Linked DNA regions of Homo sapiens: region 2 is linked to region 1. The links come from fine-mapping of genetic effects on gene expression. A gene starts in region 1. The other region holds a variant in brackets. All regions are shown on one strand. Distances are between the middles of the regions.

Region 1 (8,348 bases):
GGAAGACTACAGAAGTGAATAGCAGGCATCTATCTCCTGGGGTAGGGGTAGAATATATCTGTAGGAGGGGAGAAGTGCCAAGATAGGAGTTAGAGAGGTAGGCAGAGCTTATATCATCACTGGGTTTGTGTGAGATGCTAAGGCTATTGCAGTTTATCTTGGTGATGAGAAACTAGTAAGGAATTTGTTTGCATCTCATTACCTTTCCTGATGAGCATGTACCACTTCTGTGTCTCCGACCTTGGGTAAATAGTATCACCCTCTTAGACACTCAGCAAGGCAATATCAGAATCAATGTAAAAATTTTCTTCCTATGAATTAATTATTTCACCTATTTCCATTTTATGTGAATCCACAAAGTCATTTTCTTCCTATTTGATCTGTGCTGCCCTGACTCACATGGTCACTACCTTTTACCTAGACTATTTCATGTGTTCAAACTGGTCCCTCTGCTTGATGGTTCCTCCTTCAGCCCACTCTACACACTGCCACTAGCATGATCTTTCTTAAATAAATCCTGAGGTCACTACTCTTTCCCCAGACCTGCAATACACCTTTCTACATGCAGAATAAAAATCCTACCCGGTTGGATTGGTGTTTCAGACCCTCCACAAATTGACTTCAGTTAAACATTGCAAACTTTTCTCTCATTTCACATGCCTCCCTCAGCCTCCATCCACATCAGACTTAATCACCTTCCTCAATCTGCTTCGGTCTCTGCATCTTTGCTCCTGTTGTATCTTCTTCGGAATCCTCTTTTTTCCATCTGTTTTTCAAGGTCACAGTGTCTGCATAATAAATTACCCCCAAATTTAGTGACTTAATACAATAAACACATTACCTTCCACAGTTTCTACGAGTCAGGAATTTAGCAGCATCTTGGCTGAGCTGTCTGGTTTGAGATTACTCATGAGGTTGCAGTCACCTGAAGGCTTGACTGAGGATGGAGGATCTGCTTCCAAGATGGCCCACTCCCATGGCTAGCAAGCTGGTCTGGCTCCTGGTGGGAGGCCTCAGTTCCTCTCCAGGGCACTTTGAGTGCTCTCTGTGGCAGCTGGCTTCCCCAAGAGCAAGCAATCCAAGACACCAAGGCAGAAGCCACAGTGCCTTTTATAATCTGGCCTTTGAAGTCACATAGCATCACCTTCATTATACTCTTTTGGTCACAAAACTCAGCTCTGATGTGAGGGAAATTCCATGAGGGCATAAATATTAGGACACCATGATCACCAGGGACAATCTTGGAGTCTGGCTAACACAACATTTCTTCCAGAGGCTTTCTAGATTCACTAACTTCCTATGCCCTGCCTACCTGTTCTCAGTAGCTCAAATTCTTTAAAAATCAGAGCTCTTGGAGATCTCCCCCATAAAATCACATTTTCTGTTTTTCTTTATTATTTAATATTATGAAGTGTGAACTTGCAAAATTGCATTGTTAATTATCAAAGGACATAGTGCTGAGGAATTTTGTTCTCTAAAATCCTAGACTGTTAGAAAGTTTGTTGTTCTGAGATTCTATCAGTGAGAACAGAACATCCCTTTCTTGCCTGGCAGATTTGAACTCTTTGAGTCACTTAGAGTTACAGAAGCAGTCTCCATTTCCAGTGCAGAAGTTCAGATAAGGGATTTTCAGACACAATATTCTACATTAATCTTAAATGTATGTTTCTAAGAACTAGAATCTTGAATCTGCTTCTCAGCCCAGGTTTGATATTACATACAGATCTGATTTGCTTTAGGCCTATCAAGCACTGCTTTATTTAGATTTTACCTAAACTCCTCTCTTTCTCTAAATACTATAATGACTCCTTATTTCTTCCTTTTTTTTGAGACATGGCCACAATTCCTCTGCTGTATAGTATCTTTTGCTGTAGCAAATTAATAAACTTAATGGGTTCCAGATTTGGTCCTGGTGATTTTTGTCAGATGGGCTTTATCAATAGCTAAAATTATTTGAGCTCGAATAACTAGTGTAATTTTTTAGAATCTCCCATGCTTCTTGAACAAGGGTAACTTTTAGAATGTTTTGTCAATAGATCATTTCTATCTTTCCTCTGACTGTTTTGAAATCTATTTTCTAGACTGTTTTTGACTAATCTTGCTTGTACTTCCTTCACTGTTACAAACTCTAAGATGATACCGTTACTTTCTCACAAGGTTCCCAACTCTTTTCTAGCACTTTATTACTGAATTAGTAATTTCCTGTTTTGTCCTCCTGAGTGACTCCTGCGGTCCTTTAGAATTTAGCTACAGAATCACCTTTGTCAAGCCTTAAGCCTTTATTGAAAGCATTAGACAAAACTAAATATTTTCATGTTTGTGTTCTCATAGCACCTTGTTCATATCTCTAATATAGTACTTACCACATTTATACTTGATTTTTTTTACACGTTTTTCTTCTCTAACAGCCTCTGGAGAATATGATCTCCATGATCTGTTCATCCTTGTGTTATCTGTGCCAGGCATACTTAATTACGTAAATTATGTGAGGTCGTTGGGGCTCACAACACAATACTCCAAAATGAAGGTCTCAGTAGCAAAAGTTCTCTGCCCTACTCTGGCCCTCCTGTCTCTCAGTCCCGTATTTCCCTAGGCTAGCCATAGATATTAGGATCCCTATTCCTCAAGACAAGATGTAGAAACCAGAACCTCTATCCCCTAAAGCCAGCCATAAAAGCCTAAACATATTTTGCTAGTTTTCCCTCCCCCTTTTTCTGTAAAATCTGGCCATAAAGAAATTATCTGACCTGCCTTGTTTGACTGTAGGCTGTTAAGAGCTCCATTCCATTCCTGCCCTATACCCAGAAGGAAGGAATGGTGCTCAGAAGGCCAAGAAGAATCTAGACAGGCCTTGCTGGGTGTCCCCACTCAGTCTGTTAGCATTAGATTATACCATTTTTGTCCAATCACATTTCTACATAGCTGTCCATACTTTGTTGAACCTAAACACAAAAATGGACAATTTTCCAAGTATCTTTGGGTCTCCATTCTGAACGCTCCCATGTATACACATTAAATTTGTATGCCTTTTCTCCTATTAATTTTTTCTTCTATTAATCTGCCTTATGTCAGCGGTTTTCAGTTAACTTTCAGAGGGCCAAAACCTTTTGTCCCTCCAGGTAATGAAAATGTCCACATGACAAATAGTGAATTAGTAGGAGCTTCAGTTCTGCATAATTTAGAATTCACTGTTGAGCACCTCTATACGCATGCCATTATTGTACCTCGTCTTTGTGATCCTCATAACCTGTATTAGGCAACAGCTCATTTATATTGAGAAAACACCTAGGGCACAGCACCACTACTTTGTAGGCTACTTTAATATGTATGTGCATTATGCGAGGTTTTATGAGCTTATTTTCTGACACACTTGCTTTTCTCCAGTTTCCTCAGCTGAAAACAGCGATTCACTGTTACTGTATATATGCTAGGCTCAATGCTGGCGATAACAATTCCTGCAACATAGGGTCAGACAGGAGAAGAATGTTGTAATCTGCAAAGCCCTTCTGATTCTGGGAGTGAGGCCAGCATTAATACAACGCACGATTGTTACTTCTGAATGTCCCTTTGCAAAGAACAGTGTTTCTCAAACTTTTTTCTGACCAGATCTGCATACATTTTACATCGCCGCTGGCGATACATACGTGCAAAACACTGAAATCGAAATTTCTCTAAACAACTCCTTTACTACGTGATGTACTGTGAAACTTTTCTATTTTGTTCTATTCTCAATTTTATTAAAAACGGAGGGTGATGATCCCGATCTACCAAACCAATTTCACAATGCGCTAGAGATTATAACCCGCGGTTTGGAAAATACTGGCTTGGAAAAAGCTCTTTGATCTGTGTCATTCTCCTCACATCTCCCTACACCTCTGCGGAGTTCCGATTGTTTGGTTTCGTCCTGATAATCACTGTGCTGTGTTTTCCCTACACGCTCTGTGACGGGGCCGTCCGCCTCCTTCCTGGGCTCCTTTAAGAGGGTGGTAACGGTACATCACCGCGGGAGTGGAGAGGCAGGGCCCACTAGGTCGTCGCTGCAGGCCAGGCCCGCTCATCCAGTTATTGTGAAAGCCGGGGTGTGCGCGCGAAGAGTGGGAGGGTAGGGGTGAGGCAGGGGCAGCACTGACGCCTCGCAGGGCTGAGTAGCAACAGCTCCTCCGCGCCGCGTTTCCGGAGACCCTGAAGGAGTCCGCGCGTGCGCAGAGCGCGTCCCGGGAACTGTTCCGCCCACGGAGGCTGCCGAGCGCGCTCCCGCCGGGCCAAAGTACAAAGTGGGCTCCAGAGCGCGGGCGGCGCGGCGGCGCGAGCCAGGGGGCGGTCCTGCGCGGCCGGCCCCGCCCTCTGCTCTCCTCCCAGTCTCCCCCGCGCTGCGTGCAGTAAGGTAGCCGCCGCCGCCGCCGCCGCCGCGTCCCCTCGCCGGCTCGCTGGTACCGGCAGTGCCATGGCGGCCTTCAGCAAGTACTTGACGGCGCGAAACTCCTCGCTGGCTGGTGCCGCGTTCCTGCTGCTCTGCCTGCTCCACAAGCGGCGCCGCGCCCTCGGCCTGCACGGGTAAGAAGGCCCGTAGCCGTGCAGCTTTCCCGGGCTGGAGCGGGCGCTCCCCGCGCGCTCTCTCTCCCCACCCGGCCGACAGGTCTCTTTGCCCGACGGGGTCGGGCGGAGAGAGGGCCGACCGCGACTGCCGTGGGACTTCAATGTCAGGGTGTCCGCGAGTCCCCGCCACGACGGCGTCGGTCCCAGCTGGCCTGTCCGGCGACCTCGCTCCACCCCGGGAGTGCGAATTCTTCTGTGCCCGCGGGCGAACCGGCGCCCAGCCAGCACTCAGGCAGCGGCCTCCAGTTGGGGGTGGGAGGGGGATGCGGTGTGTCCCCCACCCCCTTCCCTACATCACCCCCTTCTGTGTCAACTTTCTGGGTGTGTTCTGGTTTTGCCATCTCATCTTCAGACCGTGAAGGATTTGTTTTGGGGACGTGGATGTGTGATTGAGGATGGGGATTGGATTCGCCAGGCTGGAGGCTGGTGTCTAAGTCACTTGGACGAGGTTTGGCTCGATTCCCGACTAACTGCTATTGAAAGTCGCGAGGGTGGCTTCTATGAAACTATTCCCGGTCCACTTGGCAGGATTGCCGTCTAAAGTGGTGAGCCCTTGGAGTCGGTGAACCCTTTGGTCGGTGAACATTTGGTCGGTGGCATTTCATCCGGAAAGGCTGGATCGGTTCTGTCGGACTTAGAGGGAAATGTTTTCCTTCCTGGGCTCTGTAGGTGAAAGATGAGAGTGTGGTTTAGGTGAGGATCAAGCTCCTTTTTAATGACACGCCACTGCTTCCACCGCGGGAGAATTTCAGTGCTTAGATTTAACTTTGGGAGGTTATCAGTTCAGAAAAAGTAAAAAAGAGAGAGCTGAATTACGGTTGCGACATACAGGTATGTATGTCACATACATGCAATTTTTATTTGCTGGACAAGTGAAAGAGAAAAGGCTACTTCCCAAGCGTTCTTGCCAGTCATTGAATATTTCGTATTAAATCTTGACATACTACTTTCATGAATTTTATTTCATTCATTCCTCTGAGCAGGTACTGTTGCCTCCCGTGTTTGATTTGCCTACAATATCTAATTAGTAGTAAAATTTGGGCTAAAACACAAATAGACTTCTAGTTTATAGTACCCTTTCCATTAAGTTCTTTCTAGCCGCCTTCTGTTTTTATCTTACTAGAGTCTGAAGTGATGATCTTTCTTTTCCTTCCTAAATCCATTTAACAGAGTTGAAAATGATTTGCAGCATAGTCTGGGCAATAACAGCGCTTACTCATTTTTCTTCTATTCAGTTTGCTTTTAAAAGGATTAATTTGGGAAAATAAAAAGCAAGTTTTTCTGTTGGTTTGTATGAACTCCCAGTTGCAAATAGAAGTTACCTGTTACCTGGGAACATGCCAGTAGAAAGAAGATGTTAGGTCCTTTAACTTGAATTCTGTTTTTGCAAAGAAGTGTTTCAGGGCATAGAACAGGTGTTTTAATATGGAGGAGGGGACTCGAGGACAGCCCTACAAGTTCTGGATTACTTTTATGATTATATGTATATGTGATATAGTATCACATACATGCCACATACATATAGTACACATAGAGCTTGAAGAATTTTTACAAGTAGAACACACTCGTGTAATCAGCACCCAGATCAAGAAACAGAACATTATCAGCACCCCAGAAATTCTCCTCATGCCCCCATCCAGTCACAGTCCACCTAACTACTAAACCAGTTTGTAAGACCATAGATTATTGCTAAGGGAAATTTTAAACAGAATCTATTGGGAAATAGTAGCGATAGAAGTAAAATAATGTAATAGAATTTGTCTTATTAAATAATTTTAGCTCCTCATTTGCCATTGTAAAATGCCTAAAAAAATTTTTTTTTGAGAAACTTTGTGAGCTTTTGTGGGGATTAAATTCTTTAGCAGGAGATGTACTGAACAAAAGATTATTATTAGTCTTTTGCATTGGGATGAGTGGGGAAAATCTCTATTTTACACAGTATTTTGTTGGAGGAGATTGCAGATTCTGAGCAGATAATCATGAAGTTTAAATTGTTGAGGTGAAATGATTGAACTATTTTGAAACCATTAAAAATGGTATTGAGTGTATTTTTGTAGATATTGTACTTCCAGAAGCTTACAAATATCTTTTAGTCACCACCTTTGGTATCACAGTTTGAAGATTAGAAGATTCTAACTTTATATTTGAGTGGGCTTTTGAATATCTTTGGTAACAGAACTGATTAATTTTAATATCTGGTGCTTAATTAAGGAAACTGTGGCTACTTGGCCTTCTTTTGTCTATGTTGTTAATAGTAGGTTGGTTTTAGAATATATATTCCCTTAGAATTGGATAGGTAATAGAGCTAGTAAAATCACTTTAAAAGTTACAGTGTAACATTATTCCAAACATTGGGAGAATGAGTAATTAAATGTTCTGGGTTACTTTTAATTTTTGTTAATGTAATTTTTTTCACTCAGTTAAATCTCATATATATGTGTGTGTGTTTCTGACCTTTTATTGTGGAAAATTTCACACATATAAAAAATAAATAGAATAATACAAGGATTGCCCAATGCACTTTACCCAAGGAGTACCAACAACATTCTATATTCTTGTTTCATCTATTTCAACCTGCCTGTCACCCCTTATTTTTATAGGTTTTTTAGGTAAAATTTATATACATTGAAATGTACAAATATTAGTTGTACATTTTTTAAACAAATGGATACACTATGTAACACATCCCTATGACAAATTAGAACATTTCTATCCCACCAGAAAGTTCCTTTGTATTCATTCCTGATCAGCTTGTATTCACTCCTGATTCCAGCACTGCTAAGCTAACTTTTTCACCTTAGTTTGCCTAATCTTACCTTTTATTTTATTATTTATGGGGAAAAGAAGAATCTTTTTACTCATGGATAAAGAGGGCTATTTAAAGGAAGTGTCTATTTCAGAATGTTATATTACTGTACTGGGAGCTATAAGATGTGTGTGTGTGTGTGTGTGTGTGTGTGTATTACAAAAATATATGACTTGTTTTCTCAGGGAGCTTACCTTCTTGTTAGGGAAAAGAAACTTAAACACTGATAGCAGAATGAAATGTACAGATAGACATGTCTTAGAAGTTTTGAGAAAGACAAGATTAATGTGTTTGGGAAGGGTTGGGGAAGGCTTCATGAAGGATGTGTGTTAAGCCTAGAAAGGGGGTAGGAGTGGATAACTGGAATAAAGTGACTGTTACAGCATCCTTTATCAGATTTTTGTTGCATTTATGTTAGAAAGAAACTTTGTGGTGCCCTTTCAATCCATCTTCCACTGCCACCAGAGCTCTTTTTAAGAAGCTCAGATATGATCATAATATTCCTTCATTAAAATCATTAATCTACTCTAAAATACAAACTTTCTGTATTCATGGTGTGGTCCTTCCCTACTTTTCCCACTCATCCAACCATAAGTGCTGGGATTACAGGCATGAGCCAACTTGCCCAGCTGATACTTCTTTTTCTTCAAGACTCAGTCAACACTTTGTCTTAGGTGTTTTCTGTCTTTTTCTGATTTCCAAACTGATGTAAGTGTCCTCTGCTTTTATGATACTGTAGGCCAGGGGTCCCCAACCCCCGGGCTGTGGACTGGTACAGGTTGGTGGCCTGTTAGGACCCAGCTGCACAGCCTGTGCAAGCGAGCATTACCACTTGAGCTCCGCCTCCTGTCAGATCAGCAGGGGCATTAGATTCTCATAGGAGCGTGAACCTGTTGTAAACTGCACATGTGAGGGATCTAGGTTGCACACTTCTTATGAGAATCTA
Region 2 (8,348 bases), 47 kb after region 1:
TTTCCACCCTCATGGAGCTTACATTCTGCATATCAGCTAGTATGCTAGTTATGGTATCCTTAACAAATAAGAAAATTAGAACAATTTAACATGACGTACTTTCAGTAAACTGATGCTGGCTTCTAGTGATTAGTGTCTCTCAAGTCTTCCCCAACCCTCCATGTCAGTGTCTGTTCTCTGAATATCCTGGTGATTGACATCAAGATTGTTGTTCTTTAGTCTCTGTAATATTTCCTTCCTAGTCTTTGAAAAATGTGATAAGATGTGCTTATGTCCACTTCTCTGGCATATCTCCAGCTCCGTGATCTCTCATGTCTAAGTTCTATCTGAGTAATCAAATGTTAGTTATCTGAACTTAGTCATATCTCTTATTTGCATATTGGATATCTGCAAGTTCTAGGACAGCTAGATTCATTTTACTCATTTTTTTCTTATTTTTCTGTACAATATTTTAGCATATACTTATTTGCTGGTTGCATAGTGTGAGAAAGATAAATTTAGGTTATATTAAGTGATTGGCAATAAAAAGGACACAATATGCACACTGATAGCACATTTGTTAAATGTATAGGAAGTACACACGTGTGCTAAAATGAAATCTAGTAGGATATGTAACAAAGGCAGTAGGTTTAATTTTCTTATTTTTGCTCGTCAGAATTTTCTAATTTTTCTACAGTGAATATGTTACTTTTGAGGAAAGCAACTTAACGTATTTTTTTGGTAGAAATTTTTTATATCCTTTGTGATGGAGATAGGGTGGGGAGAGGCAATTTTCATAAGACGTGAATTTTAAGGAGGAAAAAAGAATTTAATTAGAAAGTTGGAGAACAATATAATGAAATTCAAAATGTATAAAGATAAGTACTGTGCTGGGTTCAGTATTTAGCATTCCCATGCATATTTTTGTATTTTGGCATGTGTGTGTATGTGTGTGTATCCATAAACAATATAGTTAGAATTACTTTACATATTTAAAAGTTTCATAAATTCATGTGTAAAATGAATTGCATGTATCATTCTAATTTTTTCCAGCATACTAATTTTTAGGTCACTTCATGTTTAAAGCTGTAGACCTGCTCTTTCATATTCTGTTTCTGTGTATGTGAGCTGCTTTCTTTTTTACAGTTGTATAGAGTTTTCATTGAATAATTTTGCTATGATTTATGTAATATTGGTGTACATCAGGTTGTTTTTAATTTTATGGTATTATAAACGAGTACGATGTTTTTATTTGTGTGGCTAAGCATATGTGCAGGTATATTTGTAGGGTAAGTTCCTGAAAGTAAATTTACTGGGTTATTTTACATTTTACAGTCAGTGTACATTTTACATTTTGATAAATGATACATAATAGTTGTACCAGTTTTCACTTTTCCCTACAATGTATAGGAATACTTATACTCTGTCAGCACTACATGGCCTCTTATTTTACTGCTATTTCAAACATCTTTTTCAGTCAGTCTCACCTACGGTGATTGACGTATCAATAGGAACTTCTCATTGTACTTTGACCTTTGTTACCTTTTGAATTTTAGGTTTTCTTTTTTCCTTTGTTGCATTATTACTTCGACTTCTCAAATAGCTTTTAATGATTTGTTTGCTTTTTCTATAATGTTCATGTTAAACTTATATCACCACAGTGGTCTTTTTTTTATATTTAAAAAAATTATTGGGAAGTTTAGAAGTGGGAAAAGTGGTCTTTTTTTGTATTTAAAAAAATTACTGGGAAAGTTTGGAAGTGGGAAAAGTTCATTGTGAATTTAAAATGAATTCTTAGGAAAGGCTAGTAATATTATGTACTGCCTCTATAGTTACTCTTATTTAGATTGGTTTCAGGTAGAGTTTTGCTGTGATCAAGATTCCTGACATCTCTTTGAATTCAGCCCTTCTGAGCCAGCCTCCCAGTCCAGGTGATCCTTTGCAGAAAACAATGATAATTTGGAAGAATATAGTTAGTTCCTTTCATGGATTGAAACGTAATGAAAATCCATCAGGTTTCAGTCAGTTTAAGGATAGGGAAAGTGACAATAGGAACAGAAGAAAATGAGGAGGAATTTTATACAAGTTAGCAACTAATATTTTAAAGTGTTTCAACGTTACTCTCTTGTAATTCTTTTTTTCTAACTTTCCTCATTGTTTGTCTTAGATCATTTCTTTAGAGTAGCTAGAAACAGGTGGTCCTCTGTTTAACTCAGATGTCCATTTCACCTCAGGATTGTGCCACTTAAAGTTCCAGCTAGCAATAGAGAAGGGTGTTGCCTACAGGTAAGGCAAGGTGAAGTGAGGAGGGAGTGGTGATGGCGATAGGAGGAAGAACAAGTAGTTTAACTTCTTTTTTTAAAAAGGTAGTTAATATGTATCACCTTTTCTTTACTCTTTTCTTCCTATGTTTTCTGGGTTTGGGGAAAATACAAACAGATTAGGTTGAATGTGTAAGGTTTAGCTTGAGGAGAATAGGCTAGTTCAACTAACTGGACTGTGAGTGGGGCTTTTTGTCTGTTTTGTTTGCTGTTGTGTGCTTATCATTTGGAATAGGGTTTGGATCAAGTAGTTGTTTGTTGAATGAATGAATGTAAGCATGTATGAATTAAGTAGACTGAGCCTGTAACTCAGTAGGATGAGGTTTGCAACTTTGTCTGAAAGACCTGAAATGCTGAGTCTCTGTTCCAGCAGTTGCAGGGTAGGTGGATTCTTTTCCAGTTCCTCCTATTGTAGTCTTTCTAGTCTAACCCTATAAACACAGTGCCTTCAGACTTCCTTTTTTGGCCTACAGTTCTGCACTGCACTCAGTGCTTATTTCTTAGGATTATGTCTATAAAGCCTTAGCACAGTGTCTGACACATAGTTGGTAGTTATTATTATTCTAATTCAGTACCCAAACAGTTCACTTAAGGCTCATCAAGTTAGATATTTATTTAATCAAAGCACATTTACATTATAGCTAACTAATAGCGTTACTCTACTAATACAAACAGGTATTTGTTTGTCAGGAGCACAGTAGTTAGCCAGATAAGTGAGCTGTGATAATGGAGTTGGGGAAAGGGTTAGTCAGGGAATTGGGGTTTTTCTGGAGTGTCTTGCCTTTTCCAAGAAGTTTCCCCTGTCCTTCCAAACAGTCCAAGAGTAGTAAGTCTCGTCACGTGTTTCCTTATCTTTGCAAATGGTTTAGTACTTCCATTTTCATGGAGCTAGTGAAAATGAAAAAACTCTTGAGAGAGGTAAGATTATCTTCTTTTAAATCCCTCTACACTCACAGTAAGCTCTCAATCTTTACTGTGGCTTCAAGGCTCTGTCCTTTATAAGCCCTGCCTACCTTTTAAACTTCTCTCATTCTTGTTCCCTTTGCTACAGCAATACTGCCATCTTGCTGTGAAATGTGCACACC[G/T]ATTTTATTTCCAACACTGTATTTTTGTGCTCGTTGTTCCTTGTGCTTCACTCCCTCCCCTCTGCTACCCACTTTAAATAATCACATGGCTTTTTTTTATTTATGTCTAAGCTTAAATGTCAAGAGACTTTTCAGACCATCCTGTGTGAACTGTTCTTTTTTTTCCCCTCATGACCCTGTCTAGTCTGTCTGTAATAATTTATTTATTGGTTTATTTTTTGTCTATGTTTCTCCCGCTAGAATGTGAGCTGCATAAGTGAAAGAACCTTGTCTGTCTTTGAATTTTATGAGGAAGAGAGAGTGAATTGACAGACTGTATATTGGAAATGTTAAATGGTAAATCTAGGAATCCAAAAGTTTCCTCTATTTAATATCAGGCAAAATTCTGTTCAGGATTTTTTTTTTTTAAATATGGTGTTAATCAGGAAGTGGCTAATACAAAACTCAGTAAACCCTTGACCTTTTTTCAGCTGTCTCTCTGACCTCGTCCTCTGTGATGGTACCTTCCTCACAGCTCCAGCCAGGTTGGCCATTTTGTTCTTCCTCAAGCACGTTGCAGGTGTTCACCTTGGTATTTTGCAGTTGCTATTTCTTCTGCTTGCAGTTTTCTTCACCCAGATAATTGTGTGGTTCCAGAACTCACTTCCTTATTCAGTTTTTAGATAACATTGTTTTCTCAAAAACATGTTTGAATATGAGGAGCAGTGTAAGTATGCAAGTCTGTGTTTTGTAAATTCAGTTTTTATCTTGATAGCTGTTTATGTTGACTTAGATGAAACATGGTTCTTTAATTTTATGATATGTTTGTTATAGCTATCTTAAAAGGGCTTCTTTTTTTTAATGCAGAAAGAGGGGAAAAAGGAGCGAGCTGTGGTGGACAAGGTGTTTTTCTCAAGGCTCATACAGATTCTGAAAATCATGGTCCCTAGAACATTTTGTAAAGAGGTAAGTCTTATGAAATTATAATCTTAAGTATATTGGGCCGTTCTTTAATAAAATACCTGAGGCTGGGTAATTTATAAAGAAAAGAGATTTAATTGGCTCCTGGATCTGCAGGCTGTACAAGCATGGCACAGCATCTCCTCCACTTCCGGGGAGGCCTCAGGAAGCTGGCAATCACAGCTGAAGGTGAAGGGGGAAGCCAGTGTCTCACATGGTGAGAGAGGGAGCAAAGGGCCAAGGAGGTGCCACATACTTTTAAACAACCAGATACATGAGAACTCACTCACTGTCTGGAGGACAGCACCATGCCATGAGGGATCTGCCTCCATGACCCAAACACCTCCCACCAGGCCCCACCTCCAACACTGGGGATTACATTTCAACATGAGATTTGGGTGGAGACAGATACCCAAATTAAATTATTAAGTGTTCAACTTTCAAGGTTATGTAAGATTAGAACAGTAAAATCATAACACTTTGGTTATACTATAGGTCAAATGTTTTCTCTGTAGGTCAAGAAGATTACTAAATTTTTGTCTTTAAATCATCACCTGTCATACAAAAAACCTTGTTCAGTGCCAGTTTTTAAATAGTTTTCTCTTGTTTCTGAAGTATTATTTCATTTTATTTTATGTGAAATGCTAGGGTACTGCCATACAGCTACCCTAAATGGTGTTGCTTTGTTATAGTTAAATACTGTTGATAAACACTAGATTAAATTTCAAAAGACAAACCCTTTTATTACATTGAGATGTTAACAAGTCACATTAGTGTGGAGTATATTTGATTAAATATTTTTAAGATATGCAAAATGATATCTGGATTCATCAGTTATTTCATTCAGGAAGTGAGCTGCTTATACGAATAGTTGTATAATTCGTTCCTTTGCTTTTTTATCAAGATTATCTTCATTATTTGATAAACATTTTTAATGATTATTAAAATAATGCCGTATTCTCCATCTTCCTCAGCATTCTCTCATTCTGTAACTAGAAGTATCATTACCTTCAGCTCTTCCTCTTCCCCTTGTCACCCTTTTTGGTCACTGGGATCTGCTAATTTTTCCTATACTTAACTGTTACAAAAGCATTGCAGTTCCCAAAGAAAACGTACATTCCTTCATCATGCTGGATTTGCTCTTTCCCTCACTTTGGCATCATCTCCTGATGATTCTGCCCTTGAGAAATTCTTTTTTTAAAAAAAGTAATGACACTTGTTTTTTCCTAATTAGACAGAGGTAATACATGTTCCTTGAAGAAAATTAGAAAATGCAGCTAGATTTATTTTTTGGCACCTATCAGCCTCTTACTCGTTTTGATATATAGTCATCCTGTGTGCAAGCATATATTTTAATTTAAAAATGGGATCACACACTTTTAAGATCTGCTCCTTCCCTTATATTATAAATGTTCTTTCTAAGTATCCTAAAGTTTCTTATAAATTATTCTCTCCCTTTACATTCCTACTGTTCTCACTATATCTTACCTGGATTATTATATCTTAATTGGTCTTTTTGCTTCTTTTCCTTTTCCAATTTGTATTCTTTCTTAAAATCCTAATCAAAACATGTAACTTCATTTTCCTTATAGGGTAAATCACAACCTGACTTTGGCCTTCCTTTTAATACCATCTGCTTAGGAGATCATTGTTTTACGATCTGGCCCTATGTCCTCAGCCTTTCATTTGTTTACAACATCATGTCTGTGACATCCTGTACGTCCCCACAACAAAAACAAATATGTTTTTAAAAATTGCTTAATGCTTATCTTTTTTGTGAATATTTCCAGTGACTCTTCAGGCATAACTAATTGTCCTGCCTTTGAAGAATCCTTATTTAAAATACAAGCTTCTCTGGAAAGATGCATATGTTACCTTCCAATCAGTTAACAGCTTAATGTTCATTTTAACTATTGCAGGGGTTCAATGAATGTAAAACAAATTTGAAACATTGGATGAGTCCCTGGGAATTAGTAAGGGAGGTAGAAGGGGCTAATTTGGCCAGCTTCCCACCCTCTGCAGGCCTTCTTCCCTTACTTTAACTTCTATGTCACTGTCTTATTGTTCCAATTTAGAAAATTTAAGATCAGCTTTAAATATGTGTACTTGGGGTTGGGGTGGCAGGATTCTCATCTCACAGAAAGATAACTGATTCCCAGCCAGTCACCCAGCATCTTGACTTTCCCTGCTTCGTAATCTGTCTTGCACAGCATTGCTTAAGTAATATTCTTTAAACATCACTTTTTAACATCACTTTTTGTTCTACTGAGAAGCTTGCGAGAATTTTATGTGTGTAAACTCAGTACAGTACCATAGTTCATATGATTTTAATCCCTTTTTTCCCCCATTAAATCCTTCATCTTTTTTACCTTTAATCCTCATTCTCTTTTTTGTTTTACTGTTTATCATATTTCTAATGCCATAACTGTCTTTTGCTACCCCAAACCTTCCCATCCCACAGCTTAGGACATGAAATGATACAAATATGTTTGCCTAAATTTGTCTGCTACTTTTTATGTGTAACTCTTCCCTTCATAACTAAATTGAAAGCCCTATGAGGGCATGGACACTATTATAAATTTTTCTAACAAATTAAACCAAATTTATTCTACCTAGGCAAAATTTTAGGCTTCAATTTTGGTTAGTTGTATAACTGTATATGTGCAGTTACTGTCATTTTTCTTTGTTAAAGTTATATGTCAAAATATAAGAAAATCAACAATACACTATGATCTAGGTAATCTAAGTTACATTCCCAGCTTCTGTCCTTGACTAGGTATATGAAGGCAAGTCCTTTGACCTGCCTAGGATTCACTTTTGAATTCTGAATGAGAAAGATTAAATGAATCTATGAGGCTTTTTTCATTTATATAATATTCTTGCGTTCCCTTTAAACTATATTTAAAATTACTTATAGAAAAAATGTCAGCCAACTATATTGAAACTTACATAAAGCTTTAGATTTGGAAACCAAAAATTGTTACCAAGGTAATATTTCTTTGAACTTTCTAAAATGCATGTATTTAATTTACTATACCTGGTTTATTTTAGACAGGTTACTTGGTACTTATTGCTGTTATGCTGGTGTCTCGAACATATTGTGATGTTTGGATGATTCAAAATGGGACACTAATTGAAAGGTACTTTTTCAATCACCTTCCTCCTATATGTATGAAATGCTAATTTGTCTCATATTTATGCATTATCTTTATAAGCAACAAATAGATTCTAAGTTAGGTAAAAGATAACCCAAGTCAAATTATGTGTTTGTTCATTTACTTAAAAAATACTTAGTGTTTCCCATGTGCCAGGCAATGTGCTATACTGTGATGGGGTCTATATGCCAGCAACTAGGAGAAACTGTACCAAGCCTTGCTGAGCTGACAGTTTATCAAGAGTTAGAGACAGGTAGACAGAAAATTAAAATGCAGCATAATAAGTGCTGTAATGGGAATTCTAAAAAACCACCAAGTTGGATTTTTGAAATTAATGAGATAATTTGGAGGAAAATTTCAAAGCATTTCAAAGAATCACGTTGAGCATGTTTATTAGAAGGGAAGACAATTCTTAGACATTTCTTTCTGCATCTGGTGATAGTGCTTTTTATATTTTTTCATTATAGTCTTTCTACATATTATTAATCACTGCAATTGCTAATTTTGAATGTAAAAACGTAAAAAATGTCAGTTGGGATATCTTGGGTTATAACAATTTACCATTTATCTGTTAATAAAGAATTTATTTTTCATAATACCAATTAGAATGTCAGAGTAAACATTTTTGCTAGGAATTTTATTTCCTGGTATGCAGTATTTTGTCAGAAAATTCCTTAAAGTATTTAATCTAAAATAACTTTTTGAATGACAGTACTTAAAATTGTTAAATGCCCCAACATTTTGGAATAAAGGTTTTTTTCTCTTAGATTATTGATCTGCTTCTTAAAGATTTGTAGGAAGAGGAAGAATGCTTTATGACCATGCTCTCTGACTCATTTCTCTAGGACAGTAAAAAATCTTGTATGTAT

What was found. PIP is the estimated chance that this variant, and not a neighbour inherited with it, causes the effect.
Region 2: its variant is fine-mapped to the expression of ABCD3 in whole blood (TOPMed, PIP above 0.99).

The regions. Positions count from the first base shown.
Region 1 is chr1:94,414,035-94,422,382 of GRCh38, forward strand. ABCD3 (ATP binding cassette subfamily D member 3) reads left to right here and starts at 4,355. Exons shown (of 23, transcript NM_002858.4): 1 at 4,355-4,554. The coding sequence starts at 4,445. RefSeq lists enhancers at 3,544-4,335, 4,807-4,946 and a silencer at 4,097-4,476.
Region 2 is chr1:94,460,544-94,468,891 of GRCh38, forward strand. It overlaps ABCD3 (ATP binding cassette subfamily D member 3), which reads left to right. Exons shown (of 23, transcript NM_002858.4): 3 at 4,232-4,330; 4 at 7,376-7,464. Among named protein-coding and RNA genes, the nearest start is that of ABCD3, 46 kb to the left of the region's middle. The variant G/T (reference allele first, on the strand shown) is at 3,386.